2 separate regions of the Homo sapiens genome follow, and region 1 is linked to region 2. Evidence: fine-mapped expression QTL. A gene starts in region 2. The other region holds a variant in brackets. All regions are shown on one strand. Distances are from middle to middle.

Evidence for each region. PIP is the estimated chance that this variant, and not a neighbour inherited with it, causes the effect. A credible set is the group of variants that fine-mapping cannot tell apart.
Region 1: its variant is the best candidate, but not a certain one, in a credible set for the expression of MEIS1-AS3 in gastroesophageal junction (GTEx, PIP 0.88).

What each region holds. Positions count from the first base shown.
Region 1 is chr2:66,472,338-66,480,674 of GRCh38, forward strand. The region is part of intron 7 of MEIS1 (Meis homeobox 1); the gene reads left to right. Among named protein-coding and RNA genes, the nearest start is that of MEIS1-AS2, 36 kb to the left of the region's middle. The variant C/A (reference allele first, on the strand shown) is at 4,235.
Region 2 is chr2:66,428,809-66,437,145 of GRCh38, forward strand. MEIS1-AS3 (MEIS1 antisense RNA 3) reads right to left here and starts at 4,662. Exons shown (of 4, transcript NR_046438.2): 1 at 4,483-4,662; 2 at 3,123-3,202; 3 at 3,012-3,030. It overlaps MEIS1 (Meis homeobox 1), which reads left to right and starts at 6,317. Exons shown (of 13, transcript NM_002398.3): 1 at 6,317-7,060. The coding sequence starts at 7,049. RefSeq lists enhancers at 4,491-4,843, 5,713-6,589, 6,177-6,276, a silencer at 5,369-5,468 and a promoter at 6,075-6,615.

The DNA of each region.
Region 1 (8,337 bases), 44 kb after region 2:
TAATCTCTCCTGCAGATGAGCCAAAATATTATCATGAGTTGTGTTTAAGCGGGGGATGGGAATGTAAATTTATACATTCTAGTCAAGTCATCAAAAATAGATTAAGCACTTACTGTGTGCCAGGTACTCTGTGTGAGCTATAAAAATGAGTAGGTCATAGTATTTGCCCTTAGGAAGTTCCTGTGTGCTACCAAGAACATCAAGCATATCAAAGTAAAATATTTGCTAAATATTGGATATTCTTAGGGAGCCGTGAGTGTATTTATTTCACAACATGCCAATGACCCAGACATGGTGAACTCCGTGGTCAGGCCTGCTGGATGAAACACAGCGTGGTGGGTATTAGGTTCAAATTGCAGAGGGACAGCACTACCTTGGTAGGTGTAGACGTTCAGCATCTATGGGGCCCTGTTAGGTGGACTTGGCTCCAGAGCCCACTCTTGGAAACTTGGTCCAGTCCTTCCACACTGCCATGAGCCAGCCAGTGCCTCTGCTGTCTGAACCATTGGGGTCATCATTGTGTTCACCGCCATTAGTCACCTGGCTGCTGACTCAGATTGATCTTCTTCAAGGGAATCTTGACATTTTGAGGAGGAGAGGACCCCTTTGGCAGTCTGGTGAAGCCAATGGATACCTTATCAGAGTAATATATTTATTAATGTATCAAATAAAACCCACAGGACTACAAGGGCAGTGAATTGTATTAAAATTCAATCTTCTAAATATTTTTTAAAGCCAAGTTGTAATATAGTAATATAAGGCCGGGCGCGGTGGCTCATGCCTGTAATCCCAGCACTTTGGGACGCCAAGGTGGGCGGATCACCTGAGGTCAGGAGTTCAAAACCAGCCTGACCAACATTGAGAAACCCCATCTCTACTAAAAATACAAAATTAGCCGGGTATAGTGGTGCGTGCCTGTAATCCCAGCTAGTTGGGAGGCTGAGGCAGGAGAATCGCTTGAATCTGGAAGGCAGAGGTTGCGGTGAGCCGAGATTGTGCCATTGCACTCCAGCCTGGGTAACAAGAGTGAGACTCCATGTCAAAAAAAAAAAAAAAAAAAATATATATATATATATATATAGTAATATAAGTGCTCTGTTAAATAGGCTTAAATAACAAGATCTACTAGTAATTCTGTTGTCTGCTGAATTTTTGAAGTAGTGATAAATGTAAGTCATGTTTTAAGATATTTATAACAACTATATTGTGATATGCAAATATGATTTCCGTTGGGAACAAAGTTACAGGTCCTGCTAATAGTTCTGTGGTTTGTTACTTACTTACATACAAGCATGAAGGAAATGCTAATTCTAATTGAAGTTATTGATAATAAAAATGTAATTTTTTCCCCTTCTCAAGTACATATATCCCCTGAATTCTAACCATGGATCTCCCTTGAGGAGGTGTCTATATAGCCCAGGTTAACAACTTCTAAACTTAAGTGTCAGAAGTTAAATAAATGGGTTTGGGGATGTATAGCCATCCCTTGGTATCCCCCAGGGATTGGTTCCAGGACCCTCTCCCCTCAACCCCGCAGACAACAAAATCTTCAGATGCTCAATTCCCTGCTATTAAATGGCATAGTATTTGCATATAACCTATGCACATCCTCCCATATACTTTAAATAATCTCTAGATTACTTATAATACCTGGTACAATGTACATGCTTTGCAAATAGTTGTTATACTGTATTGTTTAGAAAATAATGACAAGAAAAAAGTCTGTACATGTTCAGTACATATGCAATCATCCATTTTTTTTTTCAAATACCTTCTATCCTCAGTTGGTTGAATACGTGGATGTAGAACACATGCATATGGAGGTCTTGACCTTAAATCATGCCATCCACCTAATCACTTGTTCTCCGTACTCCTACCCTGGGACATCACCCTCTGCCCCGCAGTGAGCATCTAACAGAAGATGGGTGGATGCCAGGAGCAGCATCTGAGGATCTTTTGAGGGATTATAGGGCTGAGGTGAGACTGAATTCTGAGACAGGACCCTGTAGCAAGGGTAACTATGCTACCCTGGGAGGATGTTTTTATGTCCTATGCCCTTCCCAGTAGCAGCCATGATTCTACCTGCCCTGGGCTGTGATATTTAGCTCTCCCCCTGATGTTATTTCTCTTTATCATGGGTGATAGCACTAATTAAGAATAGTAGTAGAGGCTTTGGCTGTTGGCCTAGCAAAAACTAACCCAAACAGTAAATTTATGCCAAGCATTTTCCTCAGGAAAAAAAAAATGTAGGCATGGTCTACCTGTTGTATTGATTAGTCCCAGAAATGTAGTTGGTAAAGTTGGGTTTTGCTCAAGTGTCTGGCTTTGTGGATTAGCTCAGTCTTGCATATAGTTTTCCATAATTGCTTAACCTAAAAGCATTCTATTTGATTAGTACAATTAGTTTGGCTTTCTCCCTCTTACCAATATCAATTCATATGCATTCCCTCCTAACGTTGCTCACTTTATTTTGTAACAAAGAATGAAGACAGCAGAACTTCCTGTTACTTATTTCCATATTAGAAGAAAAGGAGAATATGACCTTACGTAGCAAAGCTTACATTTTTAAAAAATGTATATTTTTAAGAAAAAGAGAACTACAGAGTGAATGCAGAAAATATTGAATTTGCCAATGGGCTTGTTGCTAGGTTATTAGCATTTACTGTTGTAGTTTGACTCTTTCCTTGAGTGCCCCTACTACTTATGACAGCCAGGACAGCTAGCACCTTGACACCCTTTTATACTTTAATACCTTGGGAGAAAAGGATATATTGATTTTAAAATGCATATATATATACACATATATATATATAAATATATGAATATAAATATCATTTATAAATATAAAATATAAATATGCACACCTATATAAATAAATATGTATATTTATAAAAATATTTATAAATATGTTATTTATAAAATAAATATATAATATATTATATATAAAAATATAAAATAAATTTATATATTTATTTAATAAATAACATATTTATATATTGTATATATTTATATATGCATAAATATAAATATGTATATATATTCTCCCTCTCATTCTAAGAAAGGATTTAAGGAAATTAATAAAAGTTTATAGTATACAATAGGATAAAAAATGTGTAGATGAACGAATTAGAATGAAAGCAAAATAAACAAAAAGCCAAGAAATAAGGGTAGTACCAAGCAATATAAATTATAAGATCATGTACAATGACTAGAAATAGGTATTAATTTGGCCCTGAGCTTCCTAGCAGCTAAAACAAAGACTGAAATATAATTAATTACAAGATTTACAACATCCATGGAAGTTGCTCAGAAGAATCGATTTGACCAGCATTAAGATCTGAAAGAAATTCTCCTCGTATCCTCACACAGGGAGTCCAGGGAGATGGCAGAGGCTGGCATCCTTGACAGCATCTGTAGGACTCCTCTTACATTCCCCAGCTCCTAGAACAATGCTGCAGTTATAATAATTGTTGATACATATTTGATTGATTGGACTAGGTATCTGTAATCATATTCATCCTTTTGTTTCTTTAACTCATTGGAATCTGAGTCTTGATTTTCATGGTTGAAATGAATGACAGCCTATTTTGATGTGAGCCAAGGTGCTGAGTATTTGGTGATGCCATGAGGCCTTTCTTCTCTTGTCTGTCTCCTTCTTCTGACCATTCTCTGGTGGGTTCGCCTCATTCTCCAGTCTTTTCTCCCTCCATCTGAAGTCAGGAATGGGGTTGAGGATGCTGTTGTTACTCTGGTTATTATCCCCAGGAACAGGGTTAATGGAACCAGAGAGATTCAGGTAAACAATGGTTAGAATGGAGATGCTGAGAGGCTAAGATGGGATGCCAGAATGGAAGGTTCTGATGCTGCAGTCCTTAAAAATGAAAGTTCTGAGGGAATATGACTTCAGCCTATAAAGCTGGAGGGGGCTGAGTGTTATGAATATTTGGCTTACCTCATCCTGGCACCAAAAACATCCCCTCAGGTAAAAGGAATACATTTACTACAAATAAAAGTATTGCTTGATGTACATTTTAAGCATATGAGAGGATTACTCCCAAAGATAGAAGTGAAAAGAGAAATATTCCCATTTATTAACTGAATTAATTAAATGTCCACTGCATACCGGTCCTCTGCTAAATGTGGGAATTCAGAGTGAAAGAGGTCATTTCTGGAATCAAGAAACTGACAGTCTGGTGGAGGAACAGACAGTTTAGTATATCATAGGTTAAGTCTC[C/A]CTAGTGAGCAGGTTCTGAGTAATTTGGAAGTAGAGGAATGGTACCTAACAAACTGGCACAGGGGCAGCACCTGCCTGGCATCGGATGGGCCTCTCTCTAGCCTTTCCATGGTGGCCATTTTTAATGGATCACAGCACCCTTGTCACGGGGCCTGAAAGGAGTGCAGATGCAGGTCCTTCTCCACACAGTGCTCCAGCAACCACTACCTCGTCCCCCGGAGTTAGCCCTAGAAGAAATTGGTTTTCTATTTCTGATCTCCCACTCAGTCTCCTAAGAGAGCAAGTCTATGATGGAAACTTGGGAGAGATGGAGAAGAGGGGCATGTAAGGAAAAAAAAAATTAGCTTGTGTAAAGGTAGGAAGGAGAGAGAGCATGCCACTTTGGGGACTTTGTGTGTGCTTCAGCATGAGTAGAGAGTGGGTGTGAGAGAGGAAGAGTCTGAGGTAAGGCCCAAGAGGTAACAGGGGCAAGACCACAGAGGGTCATATTTGTCATCTTAAGCCCATATTTGTCATTCTGGCATTGGTTTAGCAGGCAGTAGGGAGTCATTGGAAATGTGAGGGTTGTGGCGTGGTTGGATGGAAGTGAAGGAGGAATTGGAGCAGGGGGAGGCTGGAGTCAGCATGATAGTTATTCAGAAATGTTGCAGAACTTTACTTAGGCAGAGGGAGGAGGCTAGAGAGAGTAGCTTTGAGGAGGAAGACTGGACTGGACAGAGAAACAGTGGACGCAGAGGGTAGTGGAGTGCAAAGGCTCTGGGATGATGCCAAGGTTTCAGAAGACTGACTACACAGACTACAGGTCCCACTGGCATGCTCTTTCTTTGTCTTCTTTTGAATGTAGCTTTGCCACTCTAGATGGGAGAAAATGCAGCTGGTCATTGATGGCTGTGGCTTTTCTCCTACACCCTTGCTGGGCAGAGGTGATGCTTTTCCCACCTGTTCCTGAGGATGGCTTGCAGAAATCCTGCTAATTCTCTCTGCTGCACTGCTTTCCCTCAAAGAAGGCTCCGGCTCCGTGGAGACCAGGGGCTGGGTGGAAAGGAAGAGGCCAGCCAAGCTGTCATGGGAATTTGGTGACTCATTTCATCAGTTTACTGCTCTGAAAATGAGGTGACTTCCCCCTTTGCTTGACAACTGATTGATGAACATTTCCTGAGTATTTGCAGAATAGATGTTTTGCCTCATGGGCCTTCATGTTTATGTGCTCCCAGTGGATTCTAATCCTGGTGTGCTTCAGCCTTTCCCACTTCTCAGCTGCTAATTTTTCTTTCTATGTAGAGTCTTCAGATTACCTGCCCAAGACTTAATAGAATGCAGGATTAGAAACAGTATACCGTTATGCCTGCTGATACAACTCTGGTTACGTTGACTTTTTGCCAGAATGTTAAAGAATGAAGGATACCTTTTTACACTGAAACAGTATTTATTTGGCTAAAAACACTGTCACCTGGTACTTAGTGTGTCTACATTGAAAGCTGTCTTTCAAAGTAGCGTACTTCATTTTGTGTGTCTAGAATTTCTTGTTTTGTTTTTAGTTTTTACTTTCTTCCCCAAGATGTGGGTTTATGTGTTTTTAGAAGAATTAGCTTTACTTTGTTTCCATTTTTCCTGATGCTCTTGATAGTGAAGGAATCAGCTTTGGAAAACATTAATTGCTCCACTAAATAATGGAATCTTAATACAAGTTACATAGCGAGAAGTGGAAGCATTGCTTTTAGGCCCCAAGAATAGACCTTAGGCTCATTTTCCATAACTGAAATGGAAGCAATAGGTTTGCATTATGTGGATCAGAGTCATCATCTTAGACACTAGCCATAGTCCGTAGATTTAATTTTCATATTTCAAATGGAGGCTGTAAGTTTAACATGTCTTACTTTGCAGCTGGAACAGATTCTATTTTTAATCCGTAAGTTGCATATGGCATGGAGCCATGTGCTGCCCAGATCCAAATGCATAACTCCTGTTGATATCAGTGAGCTTCATGATGAATTGGAAAGAACTATGTGGTCTTTGTTCCAAACATCTATCTGACTTTTTAGGATTAAACGTGCTAAACAAATTCTAGCACTTTTCAAGTTCAAATGGAGTGTTTTTGAATGTAGCAACCATGCTGGCTTAAAGGAATAATGCAACAATTCCAAATAGACACACGCACACATAACCGTAGAATTGGTTTTCAGGCAGAGAAAGGCAACTGGGCTCAGGAACCTGGCTGGCATAGTAAAGGACATGGTTGTATTGAGCTACACAAAATTGCCTTTAAATAGAAAAGATAAGAGGAGAAAGCCTTTTCTTTGGATGGTACTCTGCTCATCAGGGTACACATTATTGTTGGTGAGTAACTCTAGCAAGAGCCCTCTTGTACTTCCTCATTCTTATGACCGCAATGGTGGGAATTGTCTGGCAATATTCATTCAGAACTGACAGATGTTTGCATCTATAAATAAATGTACTCAAATCATAATTGTTATAACAAGATTGTTTGATTACCTGGCAATGGCCTTGTGCTGAGATAGCTTTTGGATCACCTGTTCTTTGGGAACATTTGACAGACCTCATGTTTATTACCCAATTGGATGTCAGTAGCAATTGCAGCTAAAGAAAAAACAAAAATGCAAGTACTTGTTGACCTTGACTTTTTTCCACAAGAGATTGGACTTGATGGCTCTATTGCAGTTGAGCTGATAAGGGCTATAAACAGTAGTTTAAAGAAAATGTTTTATTCCCAGAGGAAAACACCCTATTTGCTGTGGGAAATGGCAATAGACATATACGCCTTTTGCCAGATTTTCTTAATTTACCTTTATTTGGGCTGTGGGAAAAGGATATGCTGGAAAAGCTTTTTATGGCTTTAATGTACATTTGCATAGATTGTTATAATTTGTGAATGGTGTAGTTAGTATATTGAATACAATTTAAAAGAAGCCAATGATGTTTCTATGATTTATGATAATATGATTTTTTTGAAACTGTCATGTTAGTATAAGATTGTGTTTCAGAGATGAAGATCTTATAAAAATGCAATAGACTTATGGTGCCAAAATGCTCTTTTTGATTTTAATTAAAAACATAAAAGTGTCATTGGTTAATATGATCTCACTAGGAGCAAAGAAAGAAAATTGATCCAGTGAATATTTACATGGGACATTCCAGAAATGCACTGGGGGATAAGGCAATCAGCACTTTTCTTTAGGCACAAAGTCTTAAGCTCCAGATTTGAATCAAGAAGCCCCGGGCCATGAAGGATTCCCCATTTCTTGGTGAGACAGTAAGGCTCGGTAACCTGCCCTATTTGCTCTTTAAAAATCTCACTGCATTTTCCTTCAGAGGAGAGGTGCTTTGGCTCAATGCCACTGACTTCAACTTTTGCTCTTAAAATGTTGTTTTGATGCATAGTGTAGTGATGGCTGAATTGATTTCTGTGCATAAACGGTGGCCTAGATTCTTGCCCTGTGGAAATCCATGGAATTAAGAACTCTAGGTTCCTGGAGTGATAAGAGGTAAGCAAATGATTAGATATGCATGCAGGGAAAAAATTCAAATGCTCATAGAATAGAAATAAGGGTCTATATAATTTGCAAGTTTAATGTAAATGCAAGCCACTAATACAACCAATAATTTAATGCTAATATGTGAGGATAAGTAAATGTTATTCTAATTATTTCCTATTTGGTGTGTTCTCAAAGAGTTCTGAGCAAAAAATATACTGCATTGAAATATTTCCCTGGCTACTCAGGATGAAAATGTGGTCTACTAACAGCTGTGGCCATAATGAAACCTCTGGGATACTAGTGACTAAAATTTCTCTTTAGATAGAAGTTTGGGACAATTTGAGATGGCAGAATCTAAGCCAGAGTTTCTTTCAAGGAGATTTAGCACACTGGGATATTATGTGATTTATCCAATGAAGGTACAGGCTGAGATCTAGCTCAATATGCCCTTTTAAGTAGTCACTAGAATTATTTAATAATGCAGAATATATTTTTGGTAAAAAGATTTGATCTTTTTGTCTGTTTTTCAAAGTGCAAATTTCCTCCTGAAGATAGACAAGTCTTGGGTACGTTTTTGTGAGAACAGACCCTTTGAATGAAATTTTAAAA
Region 2 (8,337 bases):
AGTGTCAAGCAACCACTACTGTTTTTTGTTTTTTGTTTTTGTTTTTGTTTTCAGAGTTGTTGAATCTGTCCTATCTTCCTTTCTTTTCCCAGGCTGTCTTCCCAAGTTTAGGCATATGGGTACACACACATGCACAGCTGTATTCAATGTAGGTTTTAGCCTTGTGCCTTAATCAAGTGTTTGAGCTATACACCTATGATTGATATCATATCCTATCTTTGGATTTGAAAAACATGGTTAGACCCCAAGACCTGTCCTATGAGTCTAAGTTGGGTACTGTGGTTTTCTCTTGTTAGTTACCAGCACCAAATCATACCCCCAACCACCACCTCCCACCCCCGTAAAACAAGATTAAAGTTTGTCATCAAGGCTGCAGTTTTTCTATTGTCCAGTAGACGGCACAAAAGATCAAGCCTTCAAATGCTAAACAATTCACCAAGGCTGCTGTGGTTTGAAGTGTATGTGTGTGATCTTCTTTAAAATAGCTAACCAGCCAGCATTGTATCTGTGAAGCAGTGAAGTACCTGAAAACTTAAGATAACTCACTAAAAGTTTTGAAACGTAATGATATAAAAAGGTTTTGCATATGTCAACAAAATGTTGCTTCAGAAAATACACTTTTAAATAACTTCAGAGAAAAATGTTATTTAGAAATTTATCATTTAAAAGTTATCTTTATAGAAATTAAAGTGAGAGAAATTACAGGGCATTTTATTTTTAATTAAAAATAAAGAAAGTATTTGCACCGTGAGACTTGAAGATTCTATAGCGGAACTTTGCATGATGCATCTATGTTTTTTACTACATTTAACATACAACTCAGTCCACAAAATTGAAGGTTGTATTTCAAATGCACTTACACATAAATGCATATATAATAGGTACTTGGGAAGGGGAATAAATTCTCTTGATGAAGTTTTGTGGGATAGCTTTTGGGGGATATTGGAGAATGAGGCCAGTAGAAACAACAGTTGGGACTTTGCCTCTTTCAGAGCAATGCATGACTTTGGCTAATATTTATATTTTACTAAAAGGCTTCTATTTCCTTTTCATTCTGCAGACACTCCTTATGTAGCAGTTTGGGGGGGAGGGTAAAGTGTGGGCTAATAACTCATTTCCCAGTTAATTTTATTAAGAATTTATAGCACTGTTTAGAAAGTTTTAAGACAACCATAAATTTTATTAGGAATACTTTATTAAGCCCTCCATTTAATTAATAAAAGACCTCTATAACTTCTGAAAATGTCAGAGCTAGTAATTATGTTAACCAGTGTAGTTTTTTCCCCCCTAGAGACCAAAGCATTTTAATGATTTGAAATAGAATAGTAAGGAAAGCACCTCCCTCTCACCCCCCATTTTTTTTCCCTAATTTTTGCATCATCCAGTCAGAATATAGTAACTTAGGTATTTTCCCTGCAACCCTTGGAGAGCCTAAGCTGACCTCTAATTGACTTCTGAACTGGACCCAGACATTCTTTGTTTTCTGAAGCAAAATGCAGTAAACAAATCTTTCAGTCCTTATAGCCTGTAATGCTTTAGAGCACTTGATTAACATCCTCCCTAATCCTCTCAGTTAACCCCCTTTGATATCACCTAACCAGGTTTCCCCCTTTAATAGATCTCTCAATAGTTTATTTCACTTTTCTCACAGCCATTCATTAGCTTTGACTTCTTGGTGCCTTTCTCATATCACCTCCAGGCTCTTATCTCCAGCATTCCTCTATTATCTGTACTAGATTTCGAATCTATTTTCTTTAAACTATCTTTCCCTCCCTCCTCTTATTTCTGTTTTTTTGAAATGTCAATGCTAGTGAGGGGGAGAGATGCAGAGGATGAATGTTTTTGAAATACAAACGCCAAGCCTCCACACCACAGGACAACCTAAAAACCAATCACAGCATTTTAAGGGACATCTTAAAGTTTGGTGGCAAATGATAAACCCTTATCATTTTGTGAACACAGCTGCCAAACTCGATTGATTAACAGGCTTTTGTTTATTCTGGGCTGGCAAATACACACACGTTTTACCTTAAGAGGTGCCTCTTTAGTTTCTAAGGGTTTTGGAGCTGACTCATCAGTGTGACCTTTTGGGACAAAAGCCTAATTTAGGATATAGATCTTTCCAGAAGCACAATTCCTTATAGAACATAAAGTCAGGGGAGTTCTCCGAGACGACTTTACCAGCAGCTCAGAGGAGCACTGAGGGCTTGAAATGCCTCCATACAGGAGGGTGTAAACAATAGAGACCAAGGGCCCAGTCTGCCTCCTTTTGTCACCGTTCTCTATCTCTGGAAAGATGCTCTGAGATAAGAAGGATGAGAAGAGAACGGAAGGCCTGAATCGCAAGAGCTAGGGCCAAGTGCCAGAAGTTTTCACCAGGCCAAGTTTTTGCAAAATAAAAGTGCTATTGCCTTAAAAAAGCAAGTATCTGAAATAAGTTAGGAATAGGGGCTGTCAAAAAATGGGCATAAATATTGACAGTAGTTTACTAAGATACCTAGACCTGTCCCTTCATTTGTTTCCTTTTAATAGATGATTAATTGCTGCCCTGCTAAAGGAGTTTTTTTTTTTTTTATGGCTACTATATTGCAACTCTAGACATCCTCTGTGCAATTTCTCTCAGCAAGCCCCAACTGTAATAACTGTTTGCTAATTGTAAAATCCTTATCCAGAATGAGGTTTGGGCAAACAATTTGTACTACTGTAATTACATTGTAAAAGTGTTTAGTCCCTTGATTGTTCAGAATTAATTGTATAAAGGCCTAGAAGTTATATTAGGTTCACAGTTTAAAATGGAAAGACTGTGGGGGGGGGGAGGGGCACTTTTCAAAACTACTGAGTTGATTTTAAGTCCGCAAACTCAAACTATCTCATTCTTTAAGGAAAATTTGTGTGTAGGTAATTTAAAGTACATTTTTAAGGTAATCTGGCACATCATGGTTAAAGCATGCAGTCGTCTAGTCTTCCTCCTGCTTTGAAGATTTTGGTTATGTTTGCAAAGGGTGACTTACCTGAACCTTCTTTTCTCATCTGTGCTAGAAAACAAAAGAAAAAGATTACCGGAAAGCAACAATACAAAATAAATCCTGTTGTCAAATATATATATATATATATATACTGACCTTTTCCAAATTTGAAAACGTGGCCGCAGAGTTGTGGTAAATCCAAGCCCCGTTACCTCTTTGCCGAAGAACCCCTGAGGCTGTTAAAGACCACAGTCCTCTAAGCGTATTTCGCAATAAATTTCTCTCAGTTAAATTATACTTACACAATTTCCCTCGCAGTTCATTTAAGGATCATAAACGTAGGTGTGCCCTGTCGGTGTTTGGTTTGACCCCCACCTCCCACCCACGCATCTCCCTCCTACCCCCGAGTCGCGCAGATGCCTGGCGGGCCTGATGCGGGGACGATGATCACACCCCCGCGAGCAGCCATCGGAAGGCGCTCAGGTATACCCCGAAGTCGGCTGGGGTTCCGGGAAGGGGTCGCAGACTGCCGGCCCAGCTTAGTCCTTTCCCTAATCGGAAAAGGAGCGTGCTGCCTGGCCCAGCCAGCGCAGCCTCCCAAGGATTAAACAGAAATCGCCTTCCTGAGACGGGGAGGTTCCATCTTGGCCTGAAATTCTGCTTCCAAGTTCATGTTGTGGGGCCGGGGAGCGACGGTGAGGCGTGGGGTGGGGGGGTGGGGGGATGGGGGGAGGCCGGGAAGTGTAGGCAGAGGCATAAAGGCGCTGGTAATGCACCTGGCTGCCCACCCACTCCGTCCCCAGCTTTTACTCGCGGGCCTGTCTTAACCTCCCAAGTGATGTTTCAGGGCGTTTGTACCAGAAAACCTACACATGTATGTGATGGAAAAAAACTAAAAGATCCTGAAACTTAAGCGTCAGAAAAAAGACAGGGAGAAACAGAGAGAAAAAGGAGAGAGGAAGCAAATGATAAGGGATCCTGGAGATGGTTTAAACACACACACACACACACACACACACACACACACACACACACACACACACACACGAGGGAGAGCTCTTTCAAGGCAAAGCGCTTCTGAAGGTTTTGGGAGAACGTGTGTCAGCCCTTCAGGCACACAGGGTGCCAGTACGGAGTTGGGGGCGGGGAAGGGTGCAGTGCAGGCGGCTGGGAAGGCTCATCTGCTCGGCTTTATGGAAACGCTCCACTGTTGGGGGCAACCAACCCCGCGTTGACTCCTGCGAAGTGCTAAAGGAAGCGATAGATGTCGCCTAAGGAGACTACGGACGCTCGGTGGAACCTCATTCCAGACCTATGTTCTCATGCTCGCCCTGTGTCTCCTGCTCCTCGGAAGCCCACTCTATAGAATCTTCAGTCCTACCTCGCAGACGGACGCAAATTATCTTTTACTTTGCGCTTAAGAGTTGGCTTCAATACATTTTAGAGCTCCTAACCTTTCCCAAACAATCTTCGGATGAAGGGATACCCCCAATCTTGCTCAAAACTCTTTCCCTACCTACACCCCCTTGAGGGTGAGGGTTCAGTCCGCAGCTGGCGAGTGGGACGTGGGTGGGGGCGATGGAGGCGCGGGCGGGCTGCTTGGAGGGAGTCAGCCTTTTGGCCACCTTCAGGGCGGGAATAGGGACTGGCAGTTCGCATTCCCCGCAGATCGAAGCTCCCTGCTGATCGATTATTTGATAATTGATTTTCCCCGCAGCCAATGCGCGGCGGCCTGGGCGGGGGCGCCTCCTGATTGGCCGAGCACTCCTCCACGGCTGCCTACCGAGATTTGGGTGAGCTCATTTTCCAGTCGACCGCAGGGGGAGTTTTCTGCGAGGTTTCAGCTGGAGGGAGGGGGAAAAATCCTCTCGGAGCCGAGCGAGCTGCGAGCCCTGCTTGTGGATGTGAGGTTTCCAGCCACTGGTAGAGCTGCTGCGGCTGAGCCATCTCGGCAGATCAGAGCCCAGCGGACAGAAATATAAATACGAAAATAACGCCACTAAATATAATCACAAGGGAGAAGCTTAGAGCGGGAGAATAAAGAGAAGGGGTGAGGGGGAATTAAAGCCCAGGCAATAGGTGTTAAAGTTAAAAACAAAACAAAACAAAAAACAGTGGTTGGTTGGAGCCTCCGAGTTGTAGGTACAGGCAGCTTTTGTCTGAAATCTCAGCTTCCGAAGCGGATTTCTTTTTCTCTGGCACTGGGAGGTTTCGCCGAGCCGGGTTGGGGACGGGAAAGAGGAGCGCGGGGAAGGATGTCTGGGGTGGTGAGGGCAGGGCTTCGCTGGAGAAAGAGCTAGTGGGGCGCGAGGTTCTTACAGGCCCGGGAGAGGTCGAGGCTGGAGCCCCTCGGCGCCTCTAAGACAAAGGCAGCGGTGGCTGCAGCCGGAGCCTAGCACTCCGGCAGCGTCGCGCCGCGCCGCGCCGCGCCCTGGGCGCACGGCCGCCTCACCCCGAGCGGGTCGGAGAAAGAGCCTCCCTCCCAGCGGCTCCCCGGCCCCGGCTCCGCCCGCGAGGTCTGGGCTGCTGCGAGCCCGCGCCGGGTTTCGCTTTCCGACGATCATAAATAGCTTGGTGTTTGTAAACAGGCGCTGGGGGCACATTCCCCGCGCTCAGCTCATTGTTCCCTCCCTTCCTCTCTACTTCGCGCAGGACGCCTGGGCTGGGGCTGGGAGCCGCCGGGGCTAGGAGGTGGGGGAGTCCAGACCCGAAGTGACAAAATGCTAGCATTTTCTTTCCCCCGGCCGGGCGTCCACCTCTAACAGCAAAGAAACCTCTAAGCTGGGTCTGCAGAAAGCCCGAGCCACCTCAACCCCATGTTCTCAGGACTCCTTAGCAGAGGCTTTCCCAACCTGGCTTCTCCCTCCTTTTCCTCCACGATCCCGCTTTGACTTTTCTCCTTGCAGTGTTTAGTTCTGAGAATTCAGTACTTTGCGCATCACCCCCTGCCCCGAAAAACACTGGCAGACCCCAATAATTTCGAGGAAAGTCATGAAGTCTATGCGCGGAGCCCTGTGCAAAATAACTCCCGCTGCTGCCTGCCCGGCGTTGATTCCCAATTTATTTCAAGAGAGTCGGCTTTGGGGAGAGAGTCTGCAGGGGGAGGGAGAGAAAAGAATACTGAAAATAAAGCTGGCGGCCGCGGGCTACTGCCTGCGTTTGTGTGCGTGTGCCCTGGGTGTGTGGTGTTTGTGCCTGGGCGTGCGATTTAATGGAGCGCCTCTCTGCCTCTCCAGTGCGGCCAGAGCTCGCTTCGCGCACCCACCCCTGCCGAGGAGCCTACTTGCTGCAGCCCAATGCATTGTGTAAGACGCGACCTGTTATGGCCACCACTACTTCCGGGTTCTAGCATTCTGGTCGGAATCCACCTCTCCGCCTGTGCAACACACACTTTACACACGCACGGGGACTGCAAGCGGGCAGCATCGATCGTGGCTCCTTTAAGACAAACTCAGACAGACATTTTTTTTAACCCTCCTTCTCTAATCTCCTTCCAGTGCAGCACTTGCAAAGAGGGAGAGAGAGGGAGAGAAAGAAAGAGAGAGAGAGAAGAGAGAAACTGATTAGGAATTAGGACTGATTCAAGGGAAGCGAGCGCTAGGGCTTTGTGCATTTGAATATTAACATTTGAGGTGTTCTGACCAGAAGAAGACAGAGCGGATGATCATTCATTCACCACGTTGACAACCTCGCCTGTGATTGACAGCTGGAGTGGCAGAAAGCCATGAGATTTGGTAGTTGGGTCTGAGGGGCGCTCTTTTTTTTCCTTTTCTTTCTTTCTTTCTTTTTTTTTTTTTAAACTGATTTTTGGGGGAGAGAAGATCTGCTTTTTTTTGCCCCCGCTGCTGTCTTGGAAACGGAGCGCTTTTATGCTCAGTGACTCGGGCGCTTTGCTTCAGGTCCCGTAGACCGAAGATCTGGGACCAGTAGCTCACGTTGCTGGAGACGTTAAGGGATTTTTCGTCGTGCTTTTTTTTTTTTTTTTTTTTTTTTCCGGGGGAGTTTGAATATTTGTTTCTTTTCACACTGGCCTTAAAGAGGATATATTAGAAGTTGAAGTAGGAAGGGAGCCAGAGAGGCCGATGGCGCAAAGGGTACGTATTAAAAAACAATTGTGGAACTCAAATGTGAGATTAAATTGAAACGTGGCCGAAAGACACTGCTAAAAAGTTTCCTTTTTTTCTCTCTCTCTTTTAAAAAATGAGGCTCCTAAAGCCGTGGCCTAAGCGAGAGGATTTATTCAATGCATTTGTAGACTTATGTATGTTACTTGGAGTTGTTAATTAAAGGAATCTATTTATCTATAGATTCCTAACCAGCAGCTATATAAATAAAAATGCAAGCTCAAACAATCATCTGGGTTTTTTTTTAAAAAAGCTAGATACCTAAAGCTGTAATTTGAACATTCAGAGATCAGAAGTTTAAAGTTATGTTTAAACTAAAATATGCAGCTGGAAACTTCTGATATGTTATTGATTATGCTCATCTTTAATATCACTAGAAGTATTCAGCTTTTTAAAGGAAATAACTTTGTCATAGTATAGCCAATTTTTTGGTCAGAAAACATTCATCTTTTTATAGTAATTTCAATTTGTATAGACTTGTATACAAGGCAATATTTTGCAAGTTTCTCTTAGATAAGCCCTCTACTAATTGAATACTAAGCACACAGTTACTCACTTTAAAAATGCAATACTAATTTCCCCATATTCCTTTTTCAATGGAAATGCAGTGAGAGTAAAGTGAGACAATGACAACCCAACTGAGGTAGTTTCTTAAAAGAAAGGGGGTCTACAAAAAGCCTTCCTTGCATAATTTGTGTCCTGGCCCTCAAAGCCCTGTTTGCAAAAGAAAGTTACTAGGCTGACACAGTTTTCTTTACTCCTTTGGTTCAGGCAAATGTCAGCGTTCTTCCAAACTCTTTTCACACCTCTGGCTTTAAGGAGATGAAAGTGGCAATTCCTCCTTTCTTTGAAAATCATTTCACTCTCAGCGCCTCCAAATCTTGGGAAAATAACTGCCTGGAATGAACCAATTAGAAAAACCTAAATAGCTAAATTTCACACACACAAAATAATGACAATCAATATGAAAGTAGTTTTTTTTTTTTTTTTCTGGAAGAGGAAGATGGAAAGTTGTGCATTTGCTTTTGAATTTGCTTTAAACCTGGTGAGTAACATTTGCCTCCTTGACTTCTAGTCTGGAAACAAAGTTCATAAGAGTAAATAAGAAAATAGAATATTAGCTGCTTCAACTATAGATTTTCTTTAACTTTGGGGGTGGGGAATTGCCCAATTCTAAATTCAGCTCTGATGTTCAGGAAAAGCTACCCTCCTTTGAGTTTCACTTATAAGGGGTCAGTTAGTTTTGT